Linked DNA regions of Homo sapiens: region 2 is linked to region 1. The links come from fine-mapping of genetic effects on gene expression. A gene starts in region 1. The other region holds a variant in brackets. All regions are shown on one strand. Distances are from middle to middle.

Region 1 (8,319 bases):
TCTCAAAAAAAAAAAAAAAAAGGGCAGGGGGCGGGGCAGAAAAGGACCAATAATCCTGTGTCTGTGAGGTGAGAAGCCACTCTCTCAAGACAGAGGGCCAGGGTGGGCGACAACTCTACGAAGATCATTTAAGGTCCAGCCATAACAGCTTCCACCCAAAAGGGCGCAATTTCCCCTCTTCTCTCCCTTGGTTTTCCTGCCCTCTCTGCGCCCCAAACCATGTTACCATTTTCCATCCTTGCCTCCCTGCGTTTTCCAGCCAAACATTTATCAAGTGCTCCCCGGGTGCCTGGCACTGGGCCGGTCACTCGCCCCTCTGACCATAGGTGCTAAGACTCCTCCCAGTACTCCTCCCAGTACTTCGTGCCCCCTCGAGCGCAAGCCTGAGCCCCTTCAGAGAGCATGAGGATGAGGGGCGGCTGTTTCTCCCCCTCACTCCTCCAGGCCTCCTCCAGCCCCGCACCCTGGTTGTTTTCCAGGGCCTTGCCCAGTCCCCAGCCAGGCCTCTCACCCTGCTTCTTTTTTCAGCTCCACTCTCATCAGGGGCTCCTGAAAACCGTGAAGGCCCCAGTCACAAAAGGTCGGCCACCTCCACCCAGCTCTGGTCCTCTTACCCTGATCCCCGGCGCACCACCCCCGCCCCGCCACCGTCTCCACAGGCGCCAGGCCTGAAGCAGGGATGCTCAGAGGACACTCCCCAAAGAGCCTGGCCCCAGCACCTGCTCAGGGTGTGACCCACGGAGAAGCGGGAAGCAGGCCCCTCCCTTTGTGGCCTGGGTCCCAGCCCCATCCAGGCGCCTTGCTTCCTTCCCTGGGAGGCCAGTACCTGGGACGTGGGGAAGACAAGCCTCACCACTTGACCAGAGGGCAGGGCACTCAGTGGCGCCTTTAGTTGCTCCTCGGGGGCATCCTGCAGGGGACAAAGAATGCAGACCTAAGAATCTTTACGCTTCCACTCCTAGCAAAGACCTCACCAAACTCCCGCCGGCAGCCATAGAGTTATGGGAGGGACGGGAAGGGGAGGCCAGCATGGGCCCACACATGCTGCCAGGGTGCCCACTCTGCCAGGTGGAGCAGAGGTCAGACTGGGAGGAGGTGCAGAGGGAGGGAGGAAGTTCTGGGGGCCCCACCTCGAGGGAGCGAGGCACACTACCTGCAGGCGAATACTCAGCTCCTGCTCCCAGCAGGCTGGGCAGTGGAAGCGGAAGGTGCCAGTGCCCACAGAGGCCTCCTGCGGACCCTCACAGGACCCAGGAACCACAAGCTGAACTCTGTGCTCTGAGGCTGGAAACAGGAACCAGAGCAGAGAGGCTGGGGACGGTATCTCTGCCCACAGAACCCATCTTGCTGCGTGGCCTGGAGGGCACCTCCCTCTCCCCGCTGAAATGGTCTGGTGGAGATGGATCCCCCACCACAGTCCCCCGAGAAGGCCTAAGGGGAAAGCTCAGGCCCCAAGGAGAATTGTCCAATGCTTAAAGGGGGAAGACAAGAGCTGAGAGCCAGGGGCTGTCCCAGTGGGTTGGGGACTCACACTTCTGGTCTCCTGTCTCCTCCAGTTGAACGTGCAAGCAGGAGAGCTCCCGGGCCTGAGTCATGAAGACAGCCCCTCAGACACTAACCCCACCCCCCATTCAGGGACCCCACCCTCGCAGCACCCTGGCTGCTGCTGGTCTGCACTTCATTACCTGGGCCCTTGAGATTGTATTCCCTTAACAAACTGAAATCCCAGGGTCCCCAGGCTGAGGCAGCGGTGGGCCTGTACCTCAAGTCGCTGGCATGAGGGAGTCCCGGGGACCCCAGACCGCCTCCCAGAGCACTGGCACACTCACCACCAGAACGCCATTGCTGACGAGCCACTCGCCACGGTCAGCCCTGGAAAGAGCCCCCAGAGCCCCCTTAGCAGGAGTCCAGGTTCCCACCCCACAGAGACCTGGGCATCCCCCAGGCACTAGTGCTGTCCTTCCCACAAGGCACTCCCACCCAAACTGCCCCAGGCCCCTGACTCACAGACTCTGCAGGCGAAATTCAACTTCCAGGCGCCCCTCACCCTGGGAAGAGAGCCAGAAGTAAGTTAGAAAGGGTCAGAAGGAGTGCACATATGTCAGTGAGTATGAGAGACATGCGTGTGTGTGCATGTGTGCGCGTGGAGATTTCAACCCAGACACCAGCTAGGGCTGCCGTGGAAACACCGCCTTGCCTGAGGGCTCAGTGAGAAGCTCTCGCGCCGGAACTCCCCAGCCCGCAGAGTCCCCGCATCAAACAGTACTGACAACACAGGGTCATCTCCGGTCACCAGGTCCTGGTCAAAGACTTTCAGTTCCATGACATTCTGGAGGGGAAAAGAGTGACAGGGCTGCAGGAGGGAGGGGACAGAAAGGTGAGCAGGGCAGCGGCAGTGGCTGGCGAGGATGTGGGTAGAGTCAGCGCTGATGCCTGGCCCACCTTGAGCTGCCTGTGGATCCTGAAGTGAAAGCTCTGGTTCCAGACAGGGCTACTGCTGTTCTTGACCGTGCGTGTCTGGAGCCTGTGGCTGCAGGCCGTGGGCAGCCAGAGAGTCACGTAGCAGTCAGAGGGGGTCACTGCGGGAAGGAACAAGTGCCCAGCGGTGGACAAGAGCCCTTCCCAGCCGCCCAGACCCACTTCCTTCCATCACCTAGAGCCCCATGTGGGTTAAGACTGAGGGGGAGGGGAAGTGGGGGCCAGAGGCAGAGCCCCAGCTGCCACCTTCCACCCAGAAGCTCCTCTCAGCTCCCTCCTCTAGGCCCTGCCCACCGGCCCACCCGCCTCCACCAAATCCAGCCACAGCACCCTCCTCCTCAGCACCCTCCTCCTCCCTCAGCCCAGCACAGGGGCCAGGGCGGTGCGCACTCACCTAGGTCCTTAGAGGGTAGGCGATGGGCCTGCAGGACACGAACCGTGAGCAGGCAGGTCCTGGACACCTCTGCCTGCAGAGGTGGGAGAGGGGAGACCTGCTACGGGCCGATGAAGCCAAGGGTGACAGGGGCCACAAAGGAGGCTGGAGCAGTGCCTCAAGGCCTAATCCTGAACCCCAGGCCCATCCTCCATCTCATCAGAATCCTGAATCAACAAGAGGAGACATGATATCTCCATCATGACGCCTGCCAGCACTTACACAATGCTCTGCGCCGGCTCTGGGCCAAGGGCTTTGCATACATTAACTCATTTATCGCACAACCACCTTATGCACAGATACTATTTACGATGGCCCACTCCACAAGGAAACTGAGGCACAGAGAAGCAGTCACTTGCCTGAGGTCCACAATTGGGGTTGGAGCCCGGGCAGGCTGGCTCCAGATTTATGCCTCACACAGACCTGCTTCCACCTTCTCGGGCTAGTATCCTTTAGGCTCTCCACCCCACATCCCCAGCCCACACCCCAGCTAAGCAGCTTTCCGGCTGGTCTTGGGTGGCAGGGGACATAAGCTATCGAGGGAGGGGAAGTAGCACATCAGGGCCTTGGGCCCCAGGCTGAGCTGCTCTCGTACCCTCCCTCCACCCTGGTCAGAAGAGCATCCTGGAAATGGGCTCTCTCCTGGGCAGGGGAGGCGGCTCCTAGCTCAGACCCCTCACAGGCTGTCATGTCCTCCAGGTCCTGCCAGGTCAGGCTGAAGATGGTCCCCCGGTAGCTCCCTCCAAACCCATGCCCCTGGTTCTGGGAATGCAGCCTGGCAGGCGCACCGGGACCAGGGAAGCCTGTGCCAACTGCTTCCTTTCGGCCTTCCACCTGCCTCCACAAGGACCCTAACAGGTCAAGTCCAGGGAGCAACCAGGTCCAGGGCAGTGCTGGAGGGCCTCATCCACCAGGGTCAGCCCAGGGCCCTCACACTCCAGGCAACTGAGTCAGAGGAGCATGGAGGAGCCACTTGCTTCCAGGGCCTCAGGGCGGCAGCTGGGAGCCTCTGAGTCTCCAGGGCCCAAATCTGTGGTGCCAGGGAGCTCTGCCAGGAGCCCGTTCCCAGGACAGAAAACACTCAGGACGGATCCCTCATCCCCAAGCCTCCTCCTCCCCTGGCTTCTGCCCGCTACCCTGGTCTTGTGGTCAATAAACTCCCCTCCCTACCCCTGGAGAAGACCACAGCTCCCATAAGAAACATATTAACTAGGCCCCAGGTAGAGACCAGGGGTCCCAGTAGGGACCCAGGGCCCTGCCAGGCCTTACCACAGCCATGAGACTGAGTCCTCAGGAGCAGGAATGATGGGGCAGTGGCCACAGGATCAAGGACTGTCAGCTTTCTAACCCAGAGCCAGGGATGTGATGTCCCAATTGGTCCCAAGTCCCTCCTACCCGCCGCCTCTGCTCCACCTAAGCTCCACACCCACTCCTGAACCAGCCACCTGTCCAGGAAATGAGGCACCCTAAGCCTATACTAGAGCTCCTGATACCTCTGTGGCACTCGCCAGCCTTTACCAGCTGGGCCTGCCCCACCCAGCCCTGCAATCCCAGCCTGGAGAGCTTGCTGCCAGGGGCTGAGCAGAAGGAAAGCAGGGGTGAGTCCCAGAACAGCAGCCAAGGGAAGAGTGGAGTTCCCTGTCACAGGCCTTTCGCAACTCTGGCACCTGTTGGACAGGAATGCCCAGTCTTGATGGCAGGGATCCATCAATCTGAGATGAACACCCGGGCCCCCTCACGACAGGCAGGGGAGTGGCTGTCACATAAAACAGCCCTTCAAAGCTAGGTGCTGAGTGGCCAGGGATGAGGCCTGTGGGTTGGCACTCAGGGGCAGGGGGTTCTTCTGCCTCCAGGGCATGGTTTGTGGGGGGGTCAGCGTGTGGAGACCAACTCTTTCCTCAGAGGGACAGCCCCAGGAGAGGCGGGGGCTTCCGTCCCTTCCTGCCTGTGCCTGTTATGGGAGAAACAGGGGTTATCCCCAGGGCACCAGGTCCCACCTGCTGCCCCTGAACTGGGGGAGGACAGTAACCATAGGAGAGCTAGGAATAGCTCTCAAGGTCCTGGGCAAAGAGGTCCGGACCAGAGAGCTACAAGACTCAGGTCTGCTTGCTTGTCCCAGGGAGGGGCTGCGGTGACTCTCATGGACAGCGGGACTTGGGCAGCTGACGGCTCTTTGGGCCCAGGCTGGGATCCAGCCCTCACCCCCAGTGAAGGTCACCCTGAAGTTTTTACCTGAACCTTCAGGCCCTCCTTAGACCACAGAAGGCAACTTCAAGAGGGAGGATCAGAACATACGACTCATAAGCCAGGCGCAGCAGCTCACACCTGTAATCCCAGCACTTTTGGGAGGCCGAGGCAGGTGGATCACGAGGTCAGGAGATCAAGACCATACTGGCTAACACGGTGAAACCCCGTCTCTACTAAAAATACAAAAAAATTAGCCGGGCATGGTGGCACGCACCTGTAGTCCCAGCTACTTGGGAGGCTGAGGCAGAATAGTGTGAACCTGGGAGGCGGAGCTTGCAGTGAGCTGACATCACACCACTGCACTCCAGCCTGGGTGACAGAGCGAGACCCCATCTTAAAAAAAAAAAAAAAAGGACATACGACTCACAGCTACCTTTTATTCAACATGTCCTGTGTGCCAGCTCCATGCTGGTCCTCATAGACATCATCTCCAAGCCCACAACAGCCCCGCGAGGTACAGCCATTATTATCTCTTTACTGACAGGACACCAATGCCCGAGACGCAGTGACTCGCCCAACATCACAGCGCTGGGGAGAGGTGCCGCTGCACCTGATCCCCACTCTGCTCACCTGTGTGGCAACTTCCTGAGAACCCTCACCCAGACCTGCCTGGCACCTTGAGTCCTTATGACCACATTCCAAGATCCTCCAAAGCTGATCTCAAGCCATGCTGGACCCGGGGCCAGCAGCCAGCATGCACACTCCAGGCTCTCTCGAGAATTGACCTGGCCAGGGAGGGGCTGGCTCCGTCCCCCGAGGCGTGCTTGGTGGTGTTCACCAGTGCTCCATCAGTCAAGGCCTGAAGCCTTGGTGAGGGAGTCGAGCAGCTGGAAGTAACTATACTTGAGGTCGTATTCCATGTCATACCAGAAATTCACTGTGGGAAGAACGGGGATCTGAGCATGAAGATCCCTCTTCTGACCTAGAGCCTCCCAAGCCTCCCCCCAGAGGCCCTGCTGGACCTTGACAGGGCCTCTCCCCAGGCGGCCTGGGCAACTCTTCACCTGCGATGCAGCCCTGGGACTGCTGGACGTGGTGGAACCACAGAGCCGGCAGATAGAGCATCTCACCGGCCCGCACCGTGCAGCGAAGGGCCTGGGCCTGACTGTAACTAGGGTACCGTGCTAGGTCTGGCGCCAAGGGGTCCAGTGGGATCCAGGGCACCTGGGAACACATCAGATGCCAGGGAGCAGCCCCCCAGACCCCCCAGGACTTCAGGCTCTGTCCCTTCCAAAGGTCAACACCACAGGCCCTGCTTGGCTCAGCAGTGAAAGGCCTCAGACTTAGAGACTTTTCAGAGCAAGGTGCCACCTCCCCAGATCTTTTGTGCCTGTTCTTCAGAGCCAGGCTTCTGCCCTTCTCCCTCCCTAGAGCCCAAGAACAGGACAGACACCTTCTCCATGGCCTCTTCATCCACCACCTTAAAGGTGCCCTCTTCAGTTAGCTGGTAGGTTGCCGGCGTGTACAGCTCTGGAGCCCAAGGGAGAAGGGTGTGGGGGAATTGCAAACAGCCTGGAACTTGCCAGACCCTCCTCCACCCCAGCCAGCCCTGGGCAGGGGCAAGGGGATCAGGGGCCCTGGTGCACTGGGGATGCCACAGCCACACCTCAGGCCTGGGAACTGGCCTCCCAGGCTCTTGCTGCCTCCCTCCCCCTTGGGCCAGCTGTTCCCCAGCCCCTCCCTGCAGGCCACATCCCCTACCATAGGGGATGAAGGGCCGGTCGCTGGGCGGATGGAACAGGAAATGCTTCTCTCCTGAGACCACGCAGTAGAGGTTCTCATAGTGGTCCTTGTGCACTGCCAACAGAAAGAAGGCCCGGGGGCAGGGTATGGAGGGCAGGGGCACGGGAGGAGGCAAACCATCATGCTGAGAGCCCTGCACCCCAAGACGTCCTATGACAAAAGAGAAGCACGCACAGAGCCAGTGGGCTGGAGATGCCAGGGGCTCTGATGGGCATTCTGGAACTCTGCCTACCAGGGACCTGATGCTCACCAGGCCCTGGACTCCTCTTCAACAAGAGGGGAAGTTCTCCTACACTTACCCCCTGGCCCAGCGGGCCTTCAGGGAGGTTTCTTTGGGTCTAGAAGAAACAATGCACCCGCCCCCAATGCCATGGGTCCATTCCCCGACCTCAGCTGTCAGGGGAAACCCTCTGTGGTGCCCGAGTCCTAGAAGCCAAAAGAAATCTTAGAGAACAGCCCAACCTCCACCCAGGGCCATCCCTCCACTCCTGGCCTCGTCTTCCCTCCCTCTGCCCCAACCTGCTCCTTCCCCACCTTTGTATTCCCCTTACACCTACAAGAAGTCACTGCAGCCGCCTCCCCCAGCCAGAAGTTCACAGCATCGGGCATCTTTCCTGCAGGGCAGAAGGCAGAGAGCAAGTTAGGAAGGCCAGGCTGGGGAAAGCTGCCATCCAGTGATGCCAGAGCCAAAACCTGGGTGAGCACAGAAGAATCCCAAGAAAGGGGTCAGGGAGAAGAGGCAGAGGTTGGGAAATCTTGGGGAAGGGGTCCTCCCTCCCTGGGGCAGAAGGAAGGACAACAATCTTTGGCAATTCATCTATGATTAAGTCAAGGCCTGGGAATGTATTTAGTGAGCTGCACCAGATGCTGACAGGACCAAGCCCATAGGCCAGGTCATCACCTAAGGGCAAACAGGCTGACCCCCCTCCTTCCCATATCTTCCCTGTCCAGGGCCACGACCACCCCACCTCCACTCACCCAGGGCTTCGGAGGCCCAGGGCACATGGGATTCCAGATCAGGCAGCAGCTGGGGCAGCTCGCTGGGCAGGTTGGAGCACTGCTTCTGCACATAGAGGACTCCAGGGTGCTGGGCCCGGCCCTCCAGCACATCCAGCACGAAGCTCAGGGGCAGGCGGCGCTCAGCTGGCATCATGAAGCGATCCCCTCTCACGGCATCCGCGTAACCATCTGGGGTCACGGCCACACTCACCTCTGTGGAGCCCACTGTGGCTCTAGAGGAATGGACACTCAGCCCATGCCCAGATGCCAGTAATCACTGCTCACACCTGACCCCAGGGCAGCTCCCACCTGAAATAGGGGAGGGACCACTTCTGGAGGGCCGGCCAGTGCTGCAGAGCGTTGCGGATAATGCACGGCCTGTTGGGGCAGACCCAGTCCCGGTAGAAGTGGAGCGGAGT
Region 2 (8,319 bases), 88 kb before region 1:
AGATGTTTGAAAAGAGGAACAGGGCAGGGCGAGGGGTGGGGTCTTCAGGTCAGAAGTTGCTTTCTAGCCCTTTATGACCCCAGTTGTCATCCCGTTGGTTTAACATTTCTCTTTAGAAAACTGTAGCCTGAAGAAACATTACCTTTGCCCTTCTGAACCACAGAATGACAAGATGCATTGTCACGGTCAAAGCCTTGCTTATAAATGTTTGACCTCATCACATTTGGGTGGAGTCTGTTGGCATTTTGCCTCAAGAAAATTCAGTGCAAGTAATGTTTGCCACGCCAACTCCGTCTGATTTATAGACATATTGTATGAGACTTTCTAGCCTGACTTATACACAAAGCCCACTTGAAAAATGAGGAATGGACAATTTCCATGTGCGTGACACGGGATTCCTGGATCTGTTCATCCTAATATATAATAATATCAGAAGGTTAGATGGGGTGACTTCTTAAGCATCCTTGGAAGTCATACATTCCACAACCCTTCCTCAGATAGTTTCTTTCAGTATAGAGTTGTTTGGAATTGGATGACAATAAGTTAAACTTTGGGGCAACTAATTACACCTATAGAAACATTCAAGGACCTTCAAATTGGCCCAAATGCTATATAGCACATGAATCCAGTAGAAGGGATGTAATAAAATGAAACTTACTGTTTGATAATTGTGTCATTTAGAGTTGTTCATTCAGTATTCCTGTAGCCATCTGAAGGGTCTACTGTAGCCATCTGAAGGGTCATCTTAGGCTGGCACTGTAACTAGTTCGTGTCTGTACTATACAGACGCTGAGCTAAATCGATTTTCCTGGGAATCTGGCTTTTTATTTCAAAGAAGCTTACTGTTTGGAACCACCCTATATAGCTAAAATTTAAGATCTAGAAAGAATCCTTTTTGATCATCTGACTCACAGGTATAGAAACTGAGGCCCAGCAGAATGAAATTGTTAAGCCAGGCTCCAGGACTTACAGGATTTTCTTGGTAGGTTTTTTTACCAACTTCCCTCTCCAGCAAAGAGCCTAAAATGACTGATAATACCATGTTGCTGTCTTTCTCCAGGGCTCAGCCTTCTTTAAATGGGCCTGCTTCTTCATCTGGTATTTAATCTGAGATGGAAAGTGAGATGCGAAACCCAATTTTCCCTTTCACTTGGTCACATGCCCAGAAGCAGCAGCGTTCAGTGGGCCGAGTACTGGCGTGGAACCTTCCTCTGTTCCCATGTCTGTGGCGTGGCACGAACCTGTGATGTGGGGCTCTCCCGCCCTTGCCCTGGAGGGGCCTTCAGGGACATGTGGCTCACCCATCTGTTATTGTCACATATCCCCCAGAGGAAGGAGGGACAGGCTGTGAGGTTAGCTTGTTTATTTTATGAGGAAACAGGCACAGAAAAATTAATTTACAGAGTCTTGGACAAAATCCCAAAGGAAGGAGGAGTGGGAAGAGCAGAGAGCGGATAAACAGCACAACGCCATCCCTGGACACGCCTAGTTCTTGCTTTTATTTAAATTTTGGTAGGTTCTGTGGCCACACCCACTTTAGGCTAGGTACTGGGAGACAACCTCTGGGGTTTTCTGGTAACCAGTTACATTCTCCAAGAGGTGGCCATTACCAGCTGAAAGGTTCGAGGTGAACTCACATCCAGCCTCTCCAAAAGGAGCTTGGGAACCTGTGTTCCCTCCGGGCAGTCTCCCAGACCGGGTTTGGTATCAGCCCCTCCCTGCCACTGCCCTGCATCTGGTCAGCTGGGGAAAAGGGGGCAGGGAGGAGAGAAGGCCAGTGGAGCAGAGCCATTCATTCTGTGGCTTATTTTGTCATCAGCAGGTCCCATTGCTCCCGCTGATTGGGGACTGCCTCTTCCTCGGGGGTGTAGTTGCTGAGATACTGCTTCCCCCTCAGGGTGGTGCTCGGCACACCCACCATAGCCTCTGGCAGGGAAATGCTGGAATCCAGACCTTCACCAGAAGCACCATTGTAGAAGAAAAAGAACAACCTCCTCAATAATAATGCAAGTGGGCCAATAATTTTTACAATATGCATATTTGTTTTCTTGATATAAAAATAATATATATTCATTGTAGAACACTTAGGAAACCACAAATCAAAAAGGAGAAAATAAAGTACACTCACCTCTGATTCTACCATCCTGGTACACATATGGTGCAGCGCAGCGGGTGAAAGCACAGGCTCTAGGATCCGAGTCCCTGGGTTTGAATCCGGGCTCCCCTGAGAAACAGCTGTGTGCCTTGGGTCGGATACTTAACCTCTCTGAGTCTTTTTTCCTCCCCTGTAAAATGGGGGTAATAAAAGTACCTACTTCATGGGATTGTTGCAAGGATTACAAGATTGTAGTGATATGGAGCTCACAGGGCAGTGCAGGAATGTAGTAAGAGCTAAGTAAATATTTGCTGCAGTTGTTGATTTATAGCTATCATTTTGCTCTCTGCCACAATGACATTTTCAGAAGACATTTTCAGAAGCAGACTTTTCTAGTTGCGAAGTAAACTCAGCCAGGAAACAATGCAGAGACTCCTTGCCCTGAAGTGGCTGTTATTATTAACTAAAGGGACTCTTTTCGAAGTGTATTTATAATACCTGAGCGATCCCAGATAGTTGATGTTTACTTTGAGATGATTTACACTTCCCCTAGTTAGTAACAACCCTTTTTTAGAAACGCATACCACTATTTAAGCAACTAAACTTGCCAGATTGCTAAAAATCAGTTACATTTCTTGTTCAAGTGAATTCACTTGATTAAACCAATTTTACTGTATTTTACTGTGATAAGAACACTTAACGAAATCTACCCTCTTTACGCATTTTTAAGTATCCATTACAAGCACAATGTGGCTATAGGCACAGTGTGGTTCCGCAAATCTCTAGAACTTATTCATCTTGCCTAACTGAAATTTTATGCTGGTTGATTAGCAAAGCCCCATTTCCTTCTCCCCACAGCCTCTGGCAGTCATGGTTCCCCTCTCTGATTTTGTGTGTTTGACTATTTTACATATCTTATACAAGTAGAATTATGTATGTTTGTCCTTCTGTGATGGGCTTATTTCACTTAGCATGTTTTTTTCCTCAAGGGCCATCCATGTTGTTGCATATTGCAGAATTTTTTTTAAGGCTGAATAGTATTCCATTGGATGTGTACACCACATTTTCTCTATCCGTTCATTCACTGATGGATGCTTTTCTTATTTCTACATCTTGGCTGTTGCCATAAAGCGTCCATCAATGAATGAATGGATAAAGAAATGATGCCAATAATGCTGCAGTGAACATGGGTGTGCAGATATCTCTTCAAAGTCCTGATTTCAGTTCTTTTGGACAAATACCCAAAGTGGGATTGCTGGATGATATGATAGTTCCATTTTTAGTTTTTGGAGGAATAAACCAAATGTATTGAACACCTACTGTGCTCAGTAGTAATTCCTGGGTGTATAGTGGTGAATAGAATAAGGAGTGGAGTCTCTGCCCTCAGAATTTCTGTCTTATAGTCAGCAAATGTATATACCATTTCAGAGTATAAGTGCTATGAAGGAAATTCATTAAAGCTATAAGACTCTATCCCCGGGAACCTGATTTGATAGTGTAAGGCATCTGCAGTGGGCCTTTGGGTTACAGACACAGTGAAGACTTGGCCCTGCTCTCAGGCTGCTACAGACCCCATCAGGAGGAAACAGGAAAGGCGGTTCTGTTCCACTGGGTGGGGGAAGGCCACCTGGAGGAAAGTTCCCCAGAGGGATGAGTGGCTGTAGTTGGAGAAGAGGAAAGGGCATTCCAGACAGAAAGAAAAGCCTGAGCAAGGGTGTGGAGACAGGGAAGTACAGGATGCTGCTGCGGAACAGCAGAGCCCAGTGTGGTTTGTGCAGTGGAGAGGGTGGGGCTTAGTAAGAGACTGAGCAAAGGTTGAGAATTGCAGCAGAGGCTAGTCATGGAGAATTTGTTCTGGAAACATTTATTCTAGACATAATCAGGGACACTCACAGTTTTGGAGATAATCTTTGAGTTCTAAGAAGGGATGGGGATCGTCTGAGGGCTAGATTAGTGAGGTTGGAACCTGGGGACAAGAAGGAACTCTTGGTGCCTGCCTCGTGCTGGATGCTCACTGCACGGGTGCTGGAGGGACACAAAGGTGAACATGCAGCCAGGAGAGCCTGGGGTTGCACAGACAGAGCCACACAGAAAGTGCTGGGGGCAGTGGTAGGAATGCCCACATGGAACTGGAGCTACTAACTATGGGAGGGGCGGGCAGGGCCTCGAAAAGAGGAGAGGTTTGAGCAGTTTTAGGCAGTGTTCCGTCACCACCACGGGCAAGTGGCCCTGCCCACCCCAGGAGTGGGAGGAGGGACATGGCAGGGGGAGCTCGGCTGCATTTCTGCCTGCCTTCCATTGCCTTGCATCCTTTCATTAACACACATCTTTCTTTGTTTTTTTTATTTAAGTAGAGACAGGGCCTCA[C/T]TCACCCAGGCTGGTCTCAAACTCCTGAGCTCAAGTAATCCTCTTGCCTTGGCCTCCCAAAGTGCTGGGATTACAGGTCTGAGCCACCGCACCTGGCCATAGACACACATCTTGTTTAAAACTCATAATTAGAAACTTGGCTCTGAAAAGAAATGTAAGCATTATTTTTCTCTTGTTCTATTAAAAATAGACTGCCAAATTTGCTTCCTCAGGGACCCCCGTGCTATATTTACCTGAGCCAGGGAGCAACTGTTCTAACCCCTTATGCCATTCCCTGGTGGCTCTTTCTCTGGCCAGGATGGAGGACCACAGTTTCCACAGGGGCTGTGACGGGAAGCCCTTGATTGGGTAGAAGGGGCTCCTTCCTTCCTGCCCCCTCCTTTTGTTCCCAGAACATGGAGCCAGGAATGCCAATCTGGGATCTTCCGCAGGACAAATTCTTTCTCCTAGTTCCCCAAGCTGTGTAGCTTTTGGGTCCTTTGGCAAAGAAAGAAACTATATTTTGAAACAACTGGACTGATTACATCTCTTTTTTGTTCCAGACTAATACAAGTTTCACTGGAAGGTCTTAAAGGATTGAAATTTCTATTAATTGCATGAATAAGTGTTGAAAATATACTGAGCACCGTGGGATGATTCTATGATTATGTTGAGTCCTGCACCCACAACACACACTAGTACATGCAAACACACATAGGTCCAGATCGTTCCATGCCCCAGGCCACGTTGCATTGTGCCTAGCTGAAACCAGTTCTCACAAACTTGGAGCATTCTCACTCCTGTTCTGTCACCATGAGAGGTTTTCATCACCTTGGCCAGAAAGCAGGATGCAGGTTAGCCGCTTCGAGTGGTTCTTAAGGCCGATTTCTTCTAAAGCTTAAGGCTTCTACTATAGCTTCGTTCACCTCCATATACAGCCAGCTTAGGTATGTAGCCCCTTGATGAACAGATTTCAACTTCCTGGTCCATTCAGCAGTTTGTGGAGATGTGTATCTTTAAACAAGTTTAGCAGCCTTGGGATTTTTCTTTCTTTTCTTCCTATTTACTTTTGCTTTTTAAGTCAATTTTGTTGAAGTATAACATATGATTAAATGCACCTTTTTTTTTTTTTTTGAGATACAGTCCCTCGCTGTCACCCAGGCTGGAGTACAGCGGCACAGTCTCGGCTCACTGCAGCCTCCGCCTCTTGGGTTGAAGCGATTCTCCTGCCTCAGCCTCCCAAGTAGCTGGGATTACAGGTATCTGCCAAAAATTAGCCTGGCTAATTTTTGTATTTTTAGTAGAGACAGGGTTTCGCGAAGTTGGCCAGGCTGGTCTCGAACTCCTGACCTCAGGCGATCCACCTGCCTTGACCTCCCAAAATGCTGGGATTACAGGCGTGAAAAATGCATCTATTCTATCTAATTGTACAGTTTGGTGAATTTGACATATTTGCATACTCGTGTGACTATGGCCATCATCAAGATATAGAAACTTTCCATCACCCTGAGACGCTCCCTGTTTGTCTGTTCCACTCACCAGCCGGGCTCCCGTCATAGGCAGCCACTGCCTGCTTTCTGTCACTTCTCCCACAAATATTTCTTGCATCCCCCCTGTATGCCAGGCACTGGATACAAAGATTTTTTAAATAACCAGTAGATAGCATTTTGGACAGCTTTCTAGGTGCCAAGGTGATTCTAAATGCTTCACGTATATTAACTCTGCAGCTCCTGAGGCCTGTGGATACTATTATCAGCCCTAGGGTAGCCCCAAGACACTGTTATTACAGATGAGGAAACGAGGCACAGAGAGGTGAAGTAATTTGCCCAAGGTCGCAGAATTAGTAAGTGATGGAGCCAGGAAGGTCCCAGGCAGTCTGGGTCCAAGGCCCACATTGTCCGCCACTATCTTGTGTGACCATGATGAAGACACAGTTCCTGTGGTTAGAGAATATATAATCTAATGAAAGAGACCAGCCCATCCCTCTGATTTTAATACCCTGTGTGAAGTGGTGCCATAGGCAGCACAGGCAAGGGAACTCAGGATGGGGAGCAGTTGAGGAAACCAGAGTAACCACAGCTCAAATTTGCTGAAAGTTAACAAAGTCTCAATGCCTTATGGATAAAAGCATTTTCTCAGGTAATCACTCAACAACCCGATCTTACAGGTGAAAAAAACTGGAGCTTAACGTTAAGTAATGTCTAACTTAATCAAAGTTGGCCCAGATATTTTGAAGAATGACTAGGGTTTGGGCTGGCTTTCTAGGCTCAGTCTAGACCATAGAGGAAGGGTTCACCAGGGCCATAGCCCAGCATGGGCAAAAGCAGGGAGCTTGGGTGAGTTTTAAAATCTGTCTTCAGATAAGCATGTTTCAGTTCTGTTTCCTCGACCTGTGATGCACCACCTAAACATCTATTGGTAACTTTTTGGAATAAAAGGAACTAATACTACTTTAAATGTGTTTGATTTGCTTTGTTGCTTGCTAACCAACAGGAACATAAACCTATCTGTACAATTTCCCCACCCTGGTATTCAGTCTAGACAGTGATCCTCAAACTGCACCATGCATTGCAATCACCTGGGAAGCTTCCAAGTGCAGATCCCCAGGCTCAGCCCCAGGGATTCTGATTCAGTGGCTCTGGGGAGGGGCCTAGGAGTCTAAACTTTAGCAAGCCCCTTATTTCATTCCAACACAGGAACAGGCTTTGAGGATCAGTGGTCTCTAGGTCCTTCTGAATCACCGTTTTCCTTTAGCAGGCAGACTAAATGACATGTTGGGAGTTAGATCCGCTGGGATTTTTGGGTAGCTAGGTATTTGCCGCCTGAGTCCTTCATGACACAAGAATCAAGCCGACCTATTCAGCCTTAGGAGGAGGGAGAGACTCTGACACATGCTACACCACAGATGGACCTTGAGGACGTTGTGCTGAGTGAAAGAAGCCGGGCACAAAAGGACACTTCTCTGAAGTACCTAGAGTAGTCAAATTCATAGAGACAAAAAGTAGAATGGTGGTCGCCAGGGGCTAGAGAGAGGAGGGGAGAATTAGTGCTTAATGGGTTCAGAGTTTCAGTTGGATGGTGGTGGTGGTTGTACGACAATGTGACTTATTTAATGCCACTGTGCAGTACACTTAAAATGCTTAAAGTAGCAAAATAATCCTAACTTTGTAGGGGGAGGTGGTAAGCAGACCAACCTCTCCCAGCTTTGATCATTCCTTGCTCTCTTTTGGACACGGTGATTTCTACTCCTTTGATTGTGTTGCCTGATGTGTGACAGACCGTCCTCTTACACCTGCTCAGGGACAGAACAAACACAGCTCTGCCTACCTGTACTTCTCGAACTATATTAAGCTCTCATTGTTGCTTTAACACAAGAAAATATGGATATGTACCTGTTCCTCCAGACATGAGTATTGGCGTCACTTATAGTAAACTTAAATCTGGCAGCTCTGTTCCTAATAACTTTTGATTTCACTATAGCATTGAAATGGCATCTTTTTTAAAGATGCTTAAATTAACTGTTAGGAACTCAAATTTAAGTTAAAGTTTAAACACAAGTGTTGCAATCAAAGGTAACCATTCAACCCAGGCGGCCCTGGGAGGAAGAGAGACTGCATCTGCACGGCTGGGTTGGCACAAGCACGGCAGGGTTGGCGCGAGCGCAGCTAGCAGCAGCAGCTGTGTTTCAGTTTGGGTGGCAGGTTTCTTTCGGAACCGACAGTAAGAGGTATTCCGAAATCTTAAATGGGGGTGAGGGGAGGATTGTTTACCAATTGTGGTTTTGTTTGTTTTGTTTTGTTTTGTTTTTGTGACAGGGTCTCACTCTCTCACCCAGGCTGGAGTATAGTGGTGGGTCCATGGCTCACTGCCTCAAACTC

The links. PIP is the estimated chance that this variant, and not a neighbour inherited with it, causes the effect.
Region 2: its variant is fine-mapped to the expression of PLA2G4B in whole blood (TOPMed, PIP 0.90).

Annotation. Positions count from the first base shown.
Region 1 is chr15:41,834,784-41,843,102 of GRCh38, reverse strand. PLA2G4B (phospholipase A2 group IVB) reads right to left here and starts at 4,256. Exons shown (of 20, transcript NM_001114633.2): 1 at 4,181-4,256; 2 at 2,873-2,945; 3 at 2,443-2,579; 4 at 2,198-2,329; 5 at 2,008-2,048; 6 at 1,830-1,872; 7 at 1,532-1,586; 8 at 1,154-1,284; 9 at 827-910; 10 at 512-549. The coding sequence starts at 4,189. JMJD7-PLA2G4B (JMJD7-PLA2G4B readthrough) reads right to left here. Exons shown (of 25, transcript NM_005090.4): 2 at 8,210-8,319; 3 at 7,880-8,133; 4 at 7,459-7,515; 5 at 6,860-6,955; 6 at 6,552-6,628; 7 at 2,873-2,945; 8 at 2,443-2,579; 9 at 2,198-2,329; 10 at 2,008-2,048; 11 at 1,830-1,872; 12 at 1,532-1,586; 13 at 1,154-1,284; 14 at 827-910; 15 at 512-549. JMJD7 (jumonji domain containing 7) reads right to left here. Exons shown (of 8, transcript NM_001114632.2): 2 at 8,210-8,319; 3 at 7,880-8,133; 4 at 7,459-7,515; 5 at 6,860-6,955; 6 at 6,552-6,628; 7 at 6,163-6,322; 8 at 5,522-6,035. The coding sequence ends at 5,947.
Region 2 is chr15:41,922,316-41,930,634 of GRCh38, reverse strand. All of the region lies in intron 3 of EHD4 (EH domain containing 4), which reads left to right. EHD4-AS1 (EHD4 antisense RNA 1) reads right to left here. Exons shown (of 4, transcript NR_120332.1): 2 at 4,468-4,554; 3 at 2,129-2,285; 4 at 1,349-1,953. Among named protein-coding and RNA genes, the nearest start is that of EHD4-AS1, 5.1 kb to the right of the region's middle. RefSeq lists enhancers at 1,026-1,155, 1,176-1,255, 1,218-1,721, 2,617-2,826, 4,227-4,744. The variant C/T (reference allele first, on the strand shown) is at 4,463.